Homo sapiens: one gene and its partners. The protein of the gene in region 3 purifies or fractionates together with the protein of the main gene of each other region. This does not show direct contact. Each region holds a gene or a part of one and is shown on either strand. Other genes may lie near its edges.

Evidence for each region. The genes of interacting proteins can lie anywhere in the genome.
Region 1: the proteins of MKRN2 (region 3) and FYTTD1 purify together in Homo sapiens (affinity purification with mass spectrometry, with the first as the bait; one large-scale study listed by BioGRID). This does not show direct contact.
Region 2: the proteins of MKRN2 (region 3) and IARS1 purify together in Homo sapiens (affinity purification with mass spectrometry, with the first as the bait; one large-scale study listed by BioGRID). This does not show direct contact.

The regions. Positions count from the first base shown.
Region 1 is NC_000003.12:197,773,226-197,778,482, reverse strand, and holds part of FYTTD1 (UAP56-interacting factor), read right to left. Parts: intron 5,081-5,257; coding exon 4,984-5,080; intron 4,335-4,983; coding exon 4,273-4,334; intron 1,557-4,272; coding exon 1,482-1,556; intron 146-1,481; coding exon 19-145; intron 1-18. UniProt on the Homo sapiens protein: Required for mRNA export from the nucleus to the cytoplasm. Acts as an adapter that uses the DDX39B/UAP56-NFX1 pathway to ensure efficient mRNA export and delivering to the nuclear pore.
Region 2 is NC_000009.12:92,282,598-92,287,854, forward strand, and holds part of IARS1 (isoleucine--tRNA ligase, cytoplasmic), read right to left. Parts: coding exon 5,194-5,257; intron 4,022-5,193; coding exon 3,939-4,021; intron 3,243-3,938; coding exon 3,125-3,242; intron 1-3,124. UniProt on the Homo sapiens protein: Catalyzes the specific attachment of an amino acid to its cognate tRNA in a 2 step reaction: the amino acid (AA) is first activated by ATP to form AA-AMP and then transferred to the acceptor end of the tRNA.
Region 3 is NC_000003.12:12,576,951-12,582,207, reverse strand, and holds part of MKRN2 (E3 ubiquitin-protein ligase makorin-2), read right to left. Parts: intron 401-5,257; coding exon 256-400; intron 93-255; coding exon 1-92. UniProt on the Homo sapiens protein: E3 ubiquitin ligase catalyzing the covalent attachment of ubiquitin moieties onto substrate proteins.

The sequences.
Region 1 (5,257 bases), about 190 Mb from region 3:
CAGAAAACGTTTTTTTACCTGTTTTCCGACACTGTTTATGTCAAACTGCAGGGGAACACCTTTAGGAACTTTCTTGACGTCACTTTGCTCCCGCTTTGTTAAAAATGAAGGTACAGCAGTACGAGTTAATCGTGGTTTCTGAGTTCTATTAGAAAAATATTAAAATATCAGAGCAGCTTAACAATGAAAAGAAAAATAAATTCACTTGGTACTTAAGACATCTTGTACACATGTTCAAATGTATTAGGGCCATTTTATTTGTGTTCTCAAAAAAAAAGTTTCACTGGCTACTCTAGACTAAAATATATAATTGTTCAGAGAATATCTCTTTAAATAGAACTACAAACTTTTCAACAAGTTGGAATGTTTGGTGATTCCTAACTCTTGATCTTCCATTAAAATAAAGCAACCTCTAAAGTCCTAGGTACCCATCCTACATGCTTTTCATTTCAATCATTAAGATGGCTGGAGGGCTAGGCACTGTGGCTCGGGCCTATAATCCCGGTACTTTGGGAGGCCAAGGCACAAGGATCGCTTGAGGCCAGGGGTTAGAGACCAGCCTAAGGAACACAGCAAGACCCCCATCTGTACAAAAAAAAAATTAGCTGGGTGTGGTGGTGCATGCCTATGTTCCCAGCTACTCAGGAGGCTGAGGCAGGAGAATTATTGGAGCCCAGGAGTTCGAGGCAGCAGTGAGCTATGGTGGCACCACTGCACTCTAGCCTGGGCATCAGAGTGAGACGTTATCTCTTAAAAAAATCAAGAGATGGTTGAATAGAACATAAGCTCCATAAATTGACAAAGTTTATAAAGCAATAAATTTAAAGAGAACGTAGGTCTGTATGGTCTGAAAAATAAAGACATCGAAAACATTACAGGGATTAGGAGAAGTAGCATGTATACCATCATCTCGTTTATTATTGTACACAAAAATATATATATTGGGTCAGGTGCAGTGGCTCACACCTGTAACCTTAGCATTTTGGGAGGCCAAGGCAAGAGGACTGCTTAAGTCTAGGAGTTCAAGACCAGTCTGGGCACAAACAAACAAAAAAGCCAGACATGGTGGTGGGCAACTGTCGCTGCAGCTCCTCAGGACTCGGGAGGCTGAGGCAGGAGGATCGCTTGAGCTTGGGAGGTCAAGACTGCAATAAGCCATGATCATGGCACTGCACTCCAGCCTGGGTAACAGAGCCAGACCTTGCCTCCAAAAAAAGGGTACACAGAGTATACATGCACATAATTTTTAAAACATAAAAAACACTGTTCCAACGTGGTCATTTAGGGCTGCAGAATCAGGAATCAAGAAAGCTCTTACTTTACTTTACACCATATACTGTTTCCATATTGTATCACAGGTATTACTGTCTTCCTGGTTCATCCCAACTTGGACATCATTCTCTGAGCAGAAGTCCAATACTTTCTTATGATCTCATGTAATGAGAGGTTATAATTTTTGCAAAAAGAAAGAAACAACTTACACTGGGCATTGCACTGCTCCAGGATTGTCAATAGATACAGTCAAAATCCCTCCATTTGTGGTGGAAGTCCGCCATCTAGTTTCAAAAAAAATAAAAAAAATTCATTAAATGTAAGTTGATAAACCCTATGTATATTCAAAATAAAAATGAACATTAAAAGTAGCCATTACTTTTTCTTAGCTTGTAAGAAATAAGTACCTGAACCCCACCATGATATAATAAATCAACATCTTGGGTGCGGAACTGGGCATCTGAATTAATTTATTAAATATTTTTCAGTGTAATAAATGTATACAAATTTAAAAAAATCAAATAGTACAAAAGAACTTCTAATAAAAAGCAACAGTCCCTCACCCCACTATTCTCCTGCTTTCTATTCCTACTCTCCAGAGGCAGCACTTTTAACCTGTTTTTACTGCTTTCTGGTTACTTCCAATTCACTAAACAAGATGCTTACATAGTAAAAAAAAAACCTTGCTGCAGCCGGGCACTGGCTCACACCTGTAATCCCAGCACTTTGGGAGGCAGAGGCAGGTGGATCATGAGGTCAGGAGTTCAAGACCAGCCTGGCTAAGATAGTGAAACCCCATCTCTACCAAAAAAAAAAAAAAAAAAAACAAATTTAAGCTGGGCGTGGGGTGTGGTGGTGGGTATTTGTAATCCCAGCTACTCAGGAGGCTGAGGCAGAGAACTGCTTGAACCCGGGAGGGGGAGGTTGCAGTGAACTGAGATTGTGCCACTGCGCTCCAGCCTGGGCAACAGAGCGAGACTCCATCTCAAAAAAAAAAAAAAAAAATTGCTATGATGAATAAAGATTTAGTTCGTCAAACTATCCTCCAGTTTCCTTACCCACCATGAAACATTTTGATGGCTGTATCACTATTTCCAGGCCTTTGTAACTGAAAATACTTAAATCTCTGTTTCTTTCAGCAGAATCTCTTGAACCCACCCCCAGCTTTATGTGAAAGGATAATAGTGCCTCTATTCCTTCCCTCCACCTCTGCTCCTTTGTTTGTACCTCTCACTTTCTGTCAGCTCTTCCTTTATATTCACATTAGTCAAAATCGGACATTTACATTATATTGTTCTCAAATTAACTATTTTGTGCTTTGTCTAACAGGTTGATTCTCAAAGTTCAAAACAAATAACATTTATATGATCACAATTATGTAAATATTGTTCACTGCAGAAGCAAAAAGGCTACAATTATTATTTCTTTCCCCATGGTTTCTAATGTCATGACCCCTGTGCTAAAGAATACCACCTGTATCAGTTTCACAGTTTCCTAACACTCCAATTGCTAAAAATCATGCACCACAGTTGGCACCATATCTGGGCCCTGACCATGTTTTACAGCCAGCTCTCTGTATCCACAGGTTCTACGTCCATGTATTCAATCAGTTGCAACCGCAGAATGAAAACAATCCACGGATATGGAGGGCCGATTGTAAGGGACTTGAGTATCTGAGGATTTTAATCTCTTCAGTGGGCCTGGAACCAATTCCCCTGAGACACAGAGACAATCCGCGGATATGGAGGGCCGACTGAAAGGGACTTGAGTATCTGAGGATTTTAATCTCTTCAATGGGCCTGGCAACAATTCCCTTGAGACACAGAGGGCCAAGTGTATATATTTTATTTTCCAAAAAGTAGTCATAATTTTAAATAGTTTAATCTCAAAACCTAATCACACTGATGGAATTAGTATGTTACAACTCACACTTAGGAGGTGTGATTATAACAGGATAAAATAGGTTTTCAAAAGATTTTTTATAGGGCTAAGAAAAAAAGACTGTGAAAAGGAAAACTATTGTTTTTAAAGTTGTACAAATGTTCTAAAAGCTCCACTGAATTTTATTCTATTCATTCCCTAAATAGGTTCATTTGTATGAAAGCAGTTATAGCAAAAAAAAGAAAAAGAAAAAGCTGTTTCATTAAAATGGTATAGCCAATAAAAAATAAAAATAATAAAAATGAAGTAATCTACGTGGCACTAAAACTGTTACAATATCGACACATGAAAACTCAAAAGGTTTTTGGGGAAAATTAACAAAGGACAAAACAAGATTTATTTATTTTAGCCTCAATGTTTAAAAATTTTTTTGGAGACAGTCTCCATAGCCCGAGCTATGCTGCTCAGGCTGGTGTGCACTGGCCATCGAGCTATGCTGCTCAGGATGGTATGCACTGGCGATCGAGCTATGCTGCTCAGGATGGTGTGCACTGGCCATCGAGCTATGCTGCTCAGGCTGGTGTGCACTGGCGATCGAGCTATGCTGCTCAGGCTGGTGTGCACTGGCGATCGAGCTATGCTGCTCAGGATGGTATGCACTGGCGATCGAGCTATGCTGCTCAGGATGGTGTGCACTGGTCATCGAGCTATGCTGCTCAGGCTGGTGTGCACTGGTCATCGAGCTATGCTGCTCAGGATGGTGTGCACTGGTCATCGAGCTATGCTGCTCAGGCTGGTGTGCAGTGGCAATCAAGTTATGCTGCTCAGGCTGGTGTGCAGTGGCATCGAGCTATGCTGCTCAGGCTGGTGTGCAGTGGCGATACACAGGTGACATTATGGCACTTCACAGCCTTGAACTCTTGGGCTCCATCAATTCTCTTGCTTCAGTCTCCCAACTAGCTGGGATTACAGGTGTGTAGCACCACTATGCCCAGCTTTCAGACTGAATTTTATTTTGGGTTTCAATTAATTTCTTCTGGACTGAGGTACATGATAATTTGGGTAGTTAGTATTCTGGGAGTTTTGAAATAACATCTTAAAAAACAAATGGAAACTTACTGACGAGTTCTCTTTGCTACTACATCGTCTAGCAGTTGTTCTGTATTCAACTGGGCCTGCACCTGAAGGGAAAAAAAAAGCAGTAGGTACCACAGAAAGCAGAGGATTTGAATCCAAAGAGCGATCCTGCTCTGGAACTTCCTAACCCAGTGGTGCGTGTACATGAGTGCAGCGGAGGTGCCTGCGCTATTCTACAACTTCCTAACCCAGTGGGGCGTGTGCGTGAGTGCAGCGGAGGGGCCCGCGCTATTCTAGAAATTCCTAACCCAGTGGGGCGTGTGCGTGAGTGCTGCGGAGGGGCCCGCGCTATTCTAGAACTTCCTAACCCAGTGGGGCGTGTGCGTGAGTGCAGCGGAGGGGCCCGTGCTATTCTAGAACTTCCTAACCCAGTGGGGTGTGTGCGTGAGTGCAGCAGAGGGGCCCACGCTATTCTGGCAACAGTTCCCTGTTGGAATTCCTACATGAGAACGAGTGGCAAATACAGGTTTATTCCCAAATAACGAGTTAAATTCTTATAAGACATTGCTATTGAGGGTAAGAAAAGATGGGAAATAAAAAACATACAACAGGAAGAACTAATCTACTACCACGTGCCTCACATCCTGAACCCAATGCTGCCTATGACTGAGGCTTACTAAAGGTGGCTGCTCAGGATCCTCTTTGGGAAAAAACAAACAAACAAACAAAAACACTGCCAAAGTTTTTAAATACCTTCAGGCCTCTTCTGAAAAGAAAAGTTGCCTGACGAGTATCTTTCTGATGATTTAATTTATTTCCACTCCTGGTAAAATTAGCTGGAATGTTATTTCTGCAACAAAAACACATAGGCCATGCTAAGCCATTTAACTACTTTCAAACATCTTGAGGAAAAATAAGCAAAAATAGTTAAATTCATAGGCTGCAAACATGAGGTGCAAGAAACAAACAACTCTGAATTATTTGCTTATTAACATGAAGCTACTGAGATTTGATTAACAAATACCTC
Region 2 (5,257 bases), on a different chromosome or scaffold from region 3:
CCATCTCTACAAAGATAAAAAAATTTTCTGGGCATGGTGATGCACATCTGTGGTCTCAGCTGCTCAGGAGGGTGAGGCTGGAGGATCACTTGAACCCAGGAGGTCAAGGCTGCAGTGAGCTGTGTTTGCACCATTGCATTCCAGCCTAGGTGACAGACTGAAATCCCTTCTCTAAAAATAAATAAATAAAAGTTTTAAGCCAATACATATATATGTATACTTACATATATACATACACACACATATATATATATATATATATATTTTTTTTTTTTGAGACAGAGTCTAACTCTGTCACCCAGGCTGGAGTGCAGTAGCACACTTTCGGCTCACTGCAACCTCAACTTCCTGGGCTCATGTCATTCTCTTACTTCAGCCTGTGGAGTAGTTGGAACTAAAGGTTCACGCCACCACGCCCAGCTAATTTTTGTAATTTTAGTAGAGATGGGGTTTTGTCATGTTGCCCAGGTCGGCCTCCAAAAGTGCGAGGATTTCAGGTGTGAGCCACTGTGCTTGGTCAAGTCAAAAAAATTTTAAAAACCCTTGGTTAACAATCAATATACAGACCGCGTAGAATAGAGGTCAGCAAACCATGGCCCCTGGGCCAAATCTGGCTCATCACTTGTTTCATACAGTGGGTGAGTTAAGAATGGTGACAAAATTGAGAACACTTTGCCTGAAAAGCCTAAAATATTTAATTTGCAGAGGAAAGTTTCCCAACCTCAGTATTAGAACTAAAAATTAAGTATACTCTGTGACTCACCTGGGCGTGGTGGCTCACGCCTGTAAAAATACCCGCACTTTGGGAGGCTGAGGCAGGTGGATCAACTGAGGTAAGGAGTTCAAGACCAGCCTGGCCAACATGGCGAAACCCTGTCTCTACTAAAAATACAAAACTTAGCTGGGCATGCTGGCGGGCACCCGTAATCCCAGCTACTCGGGAGGCTGAGGCAGGAGAATTGCTTGAACCTGGGAGGAGGGTGCAATGAGCCAAGATCACACCACTGTACTTCAGCCTGGGCATCAGAGTGAGACTCCGTCTCAAAAAAATAAAAATTAAAACAAAGTATACTCTGACTCGATAATTCCACTACTTGTTATATAACCAACTGAAACGTGTACAAGACCTAAAAGACAACAGTCACCATGTGTTTAAGTCTTGGTAGATCCTGATTTAAAAAAATAAATAAATAAAAATAAAATATAACCCCTTGGGAAATGATTAAACCATTAGAAATATGAACTGATGATGTTCAGGAATTACATAATTTGAGAATATTAAAATAAAAACTATTAAAGGTGGCTAGGTGCAGTGGCTGACACCTGTAATCCCAGCACTTTGGGAGGCCAAGGCGGGTGGACTGCTTGAGCCCAAGAGTTCAAGACCAGCCCAGGCAACATGGTGAAACCACTCCTATAGAAACACATAAATTAGCCAGGTATGGTGGTATGTTCCTGTAGTCCCAGCTACTCAGGGGGCTGAAAGGGGAGATCACTTGAGCCCGGGAGGTCAAGGCTGTGGTTAGCCGAGATCGTGCCACTGCACTCTAGCCTGGGTGACATAGCGAGATCCTATCTCAAAAACAACAACAACAACAAAAAGGTAACTGCTGATGACTTTTTAAGGTGTGACAACGAATGCTAACATGGCAATGTTTAAAGAAGATAAAGATTATTTATGAAAGATCTATACTGGATTATTTCTTGATGAAATAATATGATATCTGGAATTTGTTTCAGAATTGGAAGGAAAGTGGGAAAGAATATGTGTATGAATGAGGCAAGATTAGCCAGTCATTGGTGCTGGGGGCCTTAATGGGCCTACAGAAATTAATTATACCATTCTGTTTACTTTTGCATGTCCCTGAAACTGTCCACATTCAAGTGTTTTAAAAAACAACCAAACAGGCCGGGCGCAATGGCTCACAACTGTAATTCCAACACTTTGGGAGGCCAAGGTGGGTGGATCGCAAGGTCAGGAGTTCAAGACCAGCCTGGCCAAAATGGTGAAACCCTGTCTCTACTAAAAATGCGTGGTGGTGGGCACCTGTAAACCCAGCTACTCCAGAGGCTGAGGCAAAGAACTGCTTGAATCGGGTAGGTGGAGGTTGCAGGGAGCCAAGATCGCGCCACTGCACTCTAGCCTGGGCGACAGAGCAAGACTCTGACTCAAACAAACAAACAAACAAAAACCAAATATAGCAATATATTAAGATTTGACAAAGGTAAGCCTTGGAAACCTTGTGTTTACCATATCATTCTCTACATTGTTAAGTGCTTAAAATATTTTACTAAAAAAATACAAACATGAGCACAGAGAGGTGGTAAGGAGATAATAGAAATCATCATACCTGCCTTACAAGGATTTACAAAGATCAATCAAACAGGATATGTGAAAGCATTCTATAAATAAAACGTGCTTTGAAAGGCAAATTTTACTAATGTAATTTTCAAACCTAGGCCATGAAACAAGAATTCCAAACAAGTCAACATCCTTTAAAAACAGAGGGTCAGATAAACTCTCAAAACTGAAAACAACTCAGTATACACACGAGAAGAGATGGTTCACATTTCAGAAGACTTACTAGTATATAATATCTGTCTAGATATGGTATAACAATACACTCTGTAAACATCAAACATGTCTAAACACCTCAATCATAGCAACAACAACAACTGATTCTATCTCATCAGAGGAAAAATAATACCATTTGGCATCTCAAATTAATTTTTTTCCAAATACCGTTAACAAATAAATGATATCATGAGGTCCCAGATAAGGCATAAAATTACTCAACCCTTAAGAAACGATGACTACAGGAAGTATGTCAAAGCTGGACTTGTTAACCCAACAGAGAGGCACAAAAATATGGTCAAAACAAGCAAAACCTATCACATTAAGACACATCATAAATCCAATGTGGAAAAAAAATCCCTCATCTTAACAGAGCCTTAGTATACTAACTGGCAATATTTCCAGCACTCAGTAAGAAGTGGTCAAAGTGGTGGATGTCGTGGGCAACATTCCACACTGGGTCTACTTGGGAATACCTACTGTGATCATAACTACTCAGCTTCCACCTACAAAACTCAATGCTGAATAATGTCTCTACATTTCACGTACCTTATAATTCTGGTGTGACTCGAAGTTGGAAAGTGGAGTGTTACATGCCGTAGAGAAGGGCATGACTTTCACACCTCTATAAACAAGGCCTTTATCATAGAGTTGTTTGAAGACCCACCTGGTAAGAGATGGAGTTTCACAATTACAGAACAAAATTCTATTTCTGAAAATGCAAACATTTATGCCATTTTCTTTTTAGAGTTTCTGTCTGCCAAATAAGTGAAAAAACAATGTCTTTCATTGGGAGACTGGCTGGTAAATTATAACAGATCAATATAGTAAGACATCAGGCAGACATTAAAATGCTAATATCTACTGATATCGAATGATATTTAACACATAATGTTAAGAAAAGCAACTGGCAGGCTGGGCGCAGTGGCTCACGTCTGTAATCGTAGCACTTTGAGAGATCAAGGTGGATGGATCACCTAGGTCAGAAGTTCGAGACCACCCTGGCCAACAAGGTGAAACCCCATCTCTACTAAAAAGACAAAAATTAGCCAAGCATGGTGGCGGGCGCCTGTAATCCCAGCTACTTGGGAGGCTGAAGCAAGAGAATCGCTTGAACCTGAGAGGCGGAGGTTGCAGTGGGCCAAGACTGTGCCACTGCCCTCCAGCCTGGGCAACTGAGCGAGACTCAGTCTCAAAAAAATAAAAATAAAAGTTCTACATTCAAAAACAAACCTGTTCCCAAAGATTTTCAGAGAAATAACGATGGACTCAAAAATAAACTGATTCATGCTAGTGCATTTTTCCAATTATCAATACAACAGAATAGAATATTTACCATATTTACAATTTTAAATAAACCTACCAGACTGATTCCATGAATTGTGGATACAGAGTTTTATAGTCATTGTCAAAGTCAATCCATCGGCCAAGTCTGCTAACAGTAGACTTTAAAATATTAATATTAGAACAGTATTAGACAATGATATTTATAATTGTACATCAATGTGTGTTTATTTCTGTTGTCATCACAAATGAAAATTTTGGGAAAACAGAATAATCAATGGTACAAGTAAATCTATACTGCCAACAACATATTATGTAAGGTTAAGAACCAGTTTTCTCGGCATTCATCCTACATGCACAAAATGTTATTTACAAGTATAAATATTCACTTATAAAAGTCTACCAAAACCACCACTTGGCAAATATCACAGGCATAATTATTACTGGCAAAAACCATCCATGGATGTTAAAATTAATAAGTGAATGTATGACAAAAAAAAGAATATTTGGAAAGAATCTCCCCACAAGATACTTATTAATTACAAAGGAAAAACTACAACTTTACAAAGCAGAAAGCTGACAGCACTTTAACCAAGTGAACAAAGTTATCACCATCAATGTGACATAGCCGCAACACATGCCACCTGATATAATGCATTGAGAAGGGCATAGCATCACTTCTGTGGCATTGTCACCAAAAATGCATAACCTAAATTAAATCAGGAAACCTCACACATTGAGAGACATTATAGAAAATAGCTGTTCTGCAATCTTCAAAAGTGAGAAGGCCATGAAATACAAAGGACTAAATAAATGTTCCATACTTAAGAAGACTAAAAAGACATGACAACCAAATGCAATATGTGATTGGTCAGAAATAAAAATTAATGGGGCAACTGCTTTTGAAAATTCTATTAATATTATGGTTACCGAAGATGTTAGCAGCTGGGAAAGATGGATGAAGGATATAGGGGAACCCATCATACTACTTTTTCAATTGTTTAATAAGTCAAATTATTTCAAAATGAAAAGTTAAAAAAATTGAAAAAAGTATTTGAGAAAAAAAGAAAAGGCCTATATATCATGTTATACTTATTAGAATTTTTCCCTATTGGTGATCATGCAAGAAAGTTAGACCAATTAAGCACACAGAAGTCAGAAGAGAGATGGTTCAGTTTAAGCTAACCGTTTAAGTAATAGGGTTGAAGGTGGAAGCTAACACTTTTTCTACAAAAAATAAATTAATAAAAAAAGCACAAGGGACCATAAACCATTTCAATGCCCATTTAGTAACTACATTTGCTGTTCATTCTACTGAAAAAAACCCAACATACCTTCCACTCAGCAGAATATCTCATCACAATTGCTCGGCACTGATTGTTATACTCTGTAATCCCC
Region 3 (5,257 bases):
CCGAGCTCTGTCATGTCGACATCTTCATTGTTGGGGACATGCCGGCTTTCTCGGTTCTCGATGAAATCCCAGAGCCGCACTGAATTAAAGAACTGCAAAAACAGCCAGTGGACATGCCTGGTTACTGCTAAGAGCAACAGGAAGGCTGCGTTCCTTGATCGTTCTTTTGCCTACCCCATTTCTCTGCCAGGAACGGTACCTGGAAATGCCCACAGCTGCTAAGTGTCCCCAACTAGAGATGGCTAAAGTCCTTACCCTCACAGTGCCTTGAGAACTGAGCTGTTTCCGAGGTTTCTCAGGCTCTGCTAGCCGCCCATCGGGGTAAGCATGGCGATAAAGACATTTGCTTCCAAATGGGCAGGTCCCCTTGCCTTGCTCAAAGTATTTACAGGCTTTTTTCCTGAAAAGCAGAAAGAAAAAGTCAAGAGGCTGGTGGGAAAATGAGGGGTCCAAACTGGGCCACTGCCTGCCTCCATCCTTACCACCCTTACGCCAGAGGTAGGTCAGCCTCACATTCTAGGTGGGGCAGCTGAGGCTGGGAGAGGTTGAGTGATTTGTCTCAGGTCACACACAGCTGGGATTCTGATTTCCAAGCAGGATAGGAAGTATCCCCACTTACCTGCAGCCTTGCAAAGGATATTAACCTGCCTGGGGACTTGCTGTGTGGAGACTGCAGTGCTCCACAGGCCCTCCGGCAGCTCCAGAGCACCTCCTGGGTCACCACAGAGCTAAGCCAGGCCTGGTCACTCCTCTGGGCACTAAGCTCTGAAGCTGGGCCACTTGTCTCTGCTCAAAGTTCCCTAGGTACCCCACCAAGCCAACTCTCCCCTTCCTCCTGGCCGCAGTGCTGTCAAGGTGGCTACAGGGAAAGCAGAGGGTTTTAGCAACTGCCTAAAGCCATAGGTCTCCTTCCAGTTTTCCTGTCTCCAACCTCGGCACCAGGGAGGGCTTCTTCACGCCTTATGTGCTTTGGACCCCTTCTCTGAACAGTGTTTTTCAATGCATAAAACATGGGTCTACAGCATACAGTGACCAAACAGTTCAAAATGTTTTCCCTCTCTCTTAATTCTACCATTCTCCCCACAGACCTCTATGTTAAGAACCCTGCCCAAGGAAACTCAATCAAATGAATTCCCATTTTGCTCAAATGAACTCTGGTTTATCCAATCATAAAGGATCCCAAACTGAAGTTAAAAAAAAAAAGATACCCAAGAATCCAGAGGGCCATCTCGGAGTACAGAGGAAGGGGAAAGTCACAGAAATAAAGCCAAACAACAGAAAGGGCACGCTGCTGTCAGGGGCAGCTGGGGTGTGTGACAGCGGGAGACAAGAACAGGGAAAGGAGGCTCCTGAATCCAGTGGTTTTCCGTCTTGTCAGATGGGATGGCCGCAGGCCGGTGGTGAAGTTCTCTGAGGACGGCTTCATAGCAGCATAAAGAAAAGCCCTCTGGCCGGGTGTGGTGGCTCACACCTGTAATTCCAGCATTTTGGGAGGCCAAGGTGGGTGGATCACTTGAGGTCAGGAGTTTGAGACCAGCCTGGCCAACACAGCGAAACCCCATCTCTACTAAAAATACACAAATGAGCTGGGTGTGGTGGCTGGCACCTGTAATCCCAGCTACTCGGGAGGCTGAGGCTGAGGCAGGAGAATTGCTTGAACCCAGGAGGTGGAGGCTGCAGTGAGCCAAGATTGTGCCACTGCACTCCAGCCTGGGAGACAGAGTGAGACTTCGTCTCACTGGGGGTGGTGGCGGGGGGGTAGGGTGGGGGGAGAGAGAACAAGCTCCCTGGCCAGCTGATCTGATTTGAGCACAGGTGGCTGGAGAGCAGGTGTGTGGACGACACATCCTCCAGGCCCCTGCTTGCCTGGAGTTCTGAGCGGACTTCAAATGACCGTGAGCAGTTTGCTCTCACCAGAGCCTGCTGGACAACTCCAGAGCATCCTAGCACACTGGCTATGAACTCGATCAGGTCAAACACATTATATACTGGTCCCCCACTCTCACAAGAATATTACTCTTTTTCCTCCCCCAGGCTTATCTGGTCACCAAGGCCAAAAGCCTCCAGTTCACTCTGACTCACTCTGTGTCCTCGGCTCTCACACCCAACTGTGTTCATTCTGTTTACAAATCACTTCCCAATCTCCCCTTCCTTTGGGTTCCCACACTTGTGGAAGCCTCTGGGGCCTGCCTGCCAGGGCCACTTCCTCACTGGCCTCCCTCCCACTCCCACCAGTTTCCACCTTCAGAGCAGCACGGAGGAGCTTCCCAACCTTTTTTTTTTCTTTAAAGAGATGAGGTCTCCCTATGTCTCCCCTGGACTTAAGCAATCTGCCCTCCTCAGCCTCCCAAAGTGCTGGGATTACAGGCATAAGCCACTGCGCCTGGCCCCAACCTGTTCTTAAAGACCATGGTCACACTGGGATTCAAGTGTCCCTTAGATTCCAGTCTGTAGGTCCCACCACATCCTTCTACACACCTGTTTCAATGCCAGGAGCCACTCCCAGTGTCCCCCAGACACAAAACCTACACCCTTCTGTGCCCATGTCCTTCCATCACTTCCCCCTACAGACAGGTGCTTCCTGCTTCATGGTTCAGGCTCCCATGCTGCTTCCCCTGGCAGCCCCCGGTGGATCCAAGTGCTTTCTCTGTTGTGATAGATGGTCCCTCATGAAGAACTGGTCACCAGCAAACCTGTATCATAATTGCCCTTTTGCAGTTTCCCATGAAGTTGTCTTACTTGGCGGGGCACAGTGGCTCACACCTATAATCCTAGCACTTTGGGAAGCTGAGGTGGGTAGATCATCTGAGGCCAGGAGTTCAAGACCAGCCTGGCCAACATGGCGAAACCCCATCCCTACTAAAAAAATACAAAAATTAGCTGGGTGTCGTGGCGCACACCTGTAATCCCAGCTACTCGGGAGGCTGAGGCAGAAGAATCACTTGAACCCTGGAGGCGGAGGTTGCAGTGAGCTGAAATCATGCCACTGCCAGCCTGGGTGACAGAGCGAGACTCGAAAGAAAAAAGAAATTGTCTTACTAATCTCTACATCCCCCAGTGGTGCTTAGCTAGAAGGTACCTGACCCATAGTGAGTACTCAGTAAATGTTTGTGGATTGCAAAAAACACAGTCATTAAAGGAAAGCAAAGCAAGGAAAGATCCAAATAGCAATAACAATCTCCAGACTGCTTTTCAGCAGAGCCCCTTTCTACAGGCTGGGACCCTTTTCTACAGGCTGGGGCCCTTTTCTACAAGCTGGGACCCCTCTGCTTGCCACGCCTTGCCCTCTTGTGGACACACAGGAAGATTGTATGAGGAAAAAATGGTAAAAAAAAAAAAAAAAAAAAAATCAAGCTTTAGTAAACTAATATGCAACATAAAGGAACCATTAAAAAAGGTAATGCATAGTTTCACTTTTAGTATGACAAGTAAACGCCTGCCATACCCAACCCTCCTGCAGATAAGTCTTAACACAAATATTTCAAGAAGACCTGAAGGCACCAGAGAATGAACAAACGCAGTTAGATTCTTTGGAGGAGTAAACACAAAGAAGAATAGCAATGGCAAAGGCTAAGTTACCTTTTTTAAAAAAGGTAGCTTTTGTGGCTCACATCTGTAATCCCAGCATTTTGGGAGGCCGAGGCAGGTGGATTGCCTGAGCTCAGGAGTTCAAGACCAGCCTGGGAAACACAGTGAAACCCTGTCTCTACTAAAATACAAAAATTAGCCAGGCGTGGCGGCATGCGCCTGTAGTCCCACCTTCTTGGGAGGCTGAGGCAGAAGTGCTTGAACCTGGAAGGCGGAGGTGGCAGTGAGCTGAGACTGTGCCACTGCACTCCAGCCTGGGCTACAAAGCAAGACTCCATCTCCAAAAAAAAAAAAAAAAAAAAAAAAAGAAGTAGCTCTTATCCTGGAGCAGGCCAAAATCATAACCACATGGGGTGGCTAAAACTCCAAGGGGAAATCCAATCTTTCTGGCCTGAAGAACTAAAAGACAAGAGTTCAAGGAAATCACAGCCATTGGAAAGTGAGGAAGCAATCCCACAAAGTAAGGGGCCTGTGAAAAAGTGCTCAAAGGCTGTGTATAAACTCTGCCCAAATCTGACTAACTCCCAAACCACACAGGAATGCGACAAAGTCAGCTACGAATGCAAAACCAGAACTGAGATCTGAACTGCTACCTGGGTTTGAGTTCAAACAATTTACCTGCCTGTTAAAAACAGCAACACTTGGCCAGGCGCAGTGGCTCATGCCTGTAATCCCAGCACTTTGGGAGGCCGAGGTGGGCGGATCACCTGAGGTCAGGAGTTTGAGACCAGCCAGGCTAACATGGTGAAACCCCGTTTCTACTAAAAATACAAAAAATTGGCCAGGTGCAGTGGTGCATGCCTGTAATCCCTGCTACTCGGGAGGCTGAGGCAGGAGAATCGCTTGAACCCGAGAGGCAGAGGTTGCAGTGAGCCGAGATTGTGCCACTGCACTCCAGCCTGGGCAACAAGAGTGAAACTCCGTCTCAAAAAAAAAAAAATCATCACTTTACAGATAAACCATAACAGAATCCTAAGTCTCTCTACAATGTAATATTTACAATGTCAAGGATAAAATCTAAAATTACTAGACATACGAAGAATCAGGAAAATGTGATCCATTCTTAAAAGACAACAGAGGTCAACTTCAAGATAACAAGGATTTCAAAGTAGCTGCTACAACTATGTTCAAGGAGATGAAAAGAAAAAAAGATTGAAAAAGAATGAATATCCCCAGAGATCTATGAACAATATAAAAAAACTATCATAAACGGAAGTAGAGTCCCAGCAGGAAAAGAAAAAAACAAGACAGAAAAAAAGTTAATGAAACAATAGCTAAAATTTCGCTCATCTTGGGGAGTGACATAAGCGTAGAGAAAAACCACTCCACTCCTAGGCAAAATATCAACATGCTGACAACCAGGATAAAGAGGAACATTTGAGGCCGGGCACGGTGGCTCATGCCTGTAATCCCAGCACTTTGGGAGGCCGAGGCAGGAGGATCACTTGAGCCTAGGAGTTCAAGACCAGCCTGGGCTACATGGCGAAACCTTGTCTCTACCAAAAAAAATTAGCCAATTAGCTGGGCATGGTGGCGCACACTACTGGTGGCCCCAGCTACTCAAGAGGCTCCTGCTTGAGCCCAGGAGGCTGAGGCTGCAGTGAGCTGAGATTGCACCACTGCACTCCAGCCTGGGCAACAGAGTGAGACCCTATCTCACCGAAAAAAA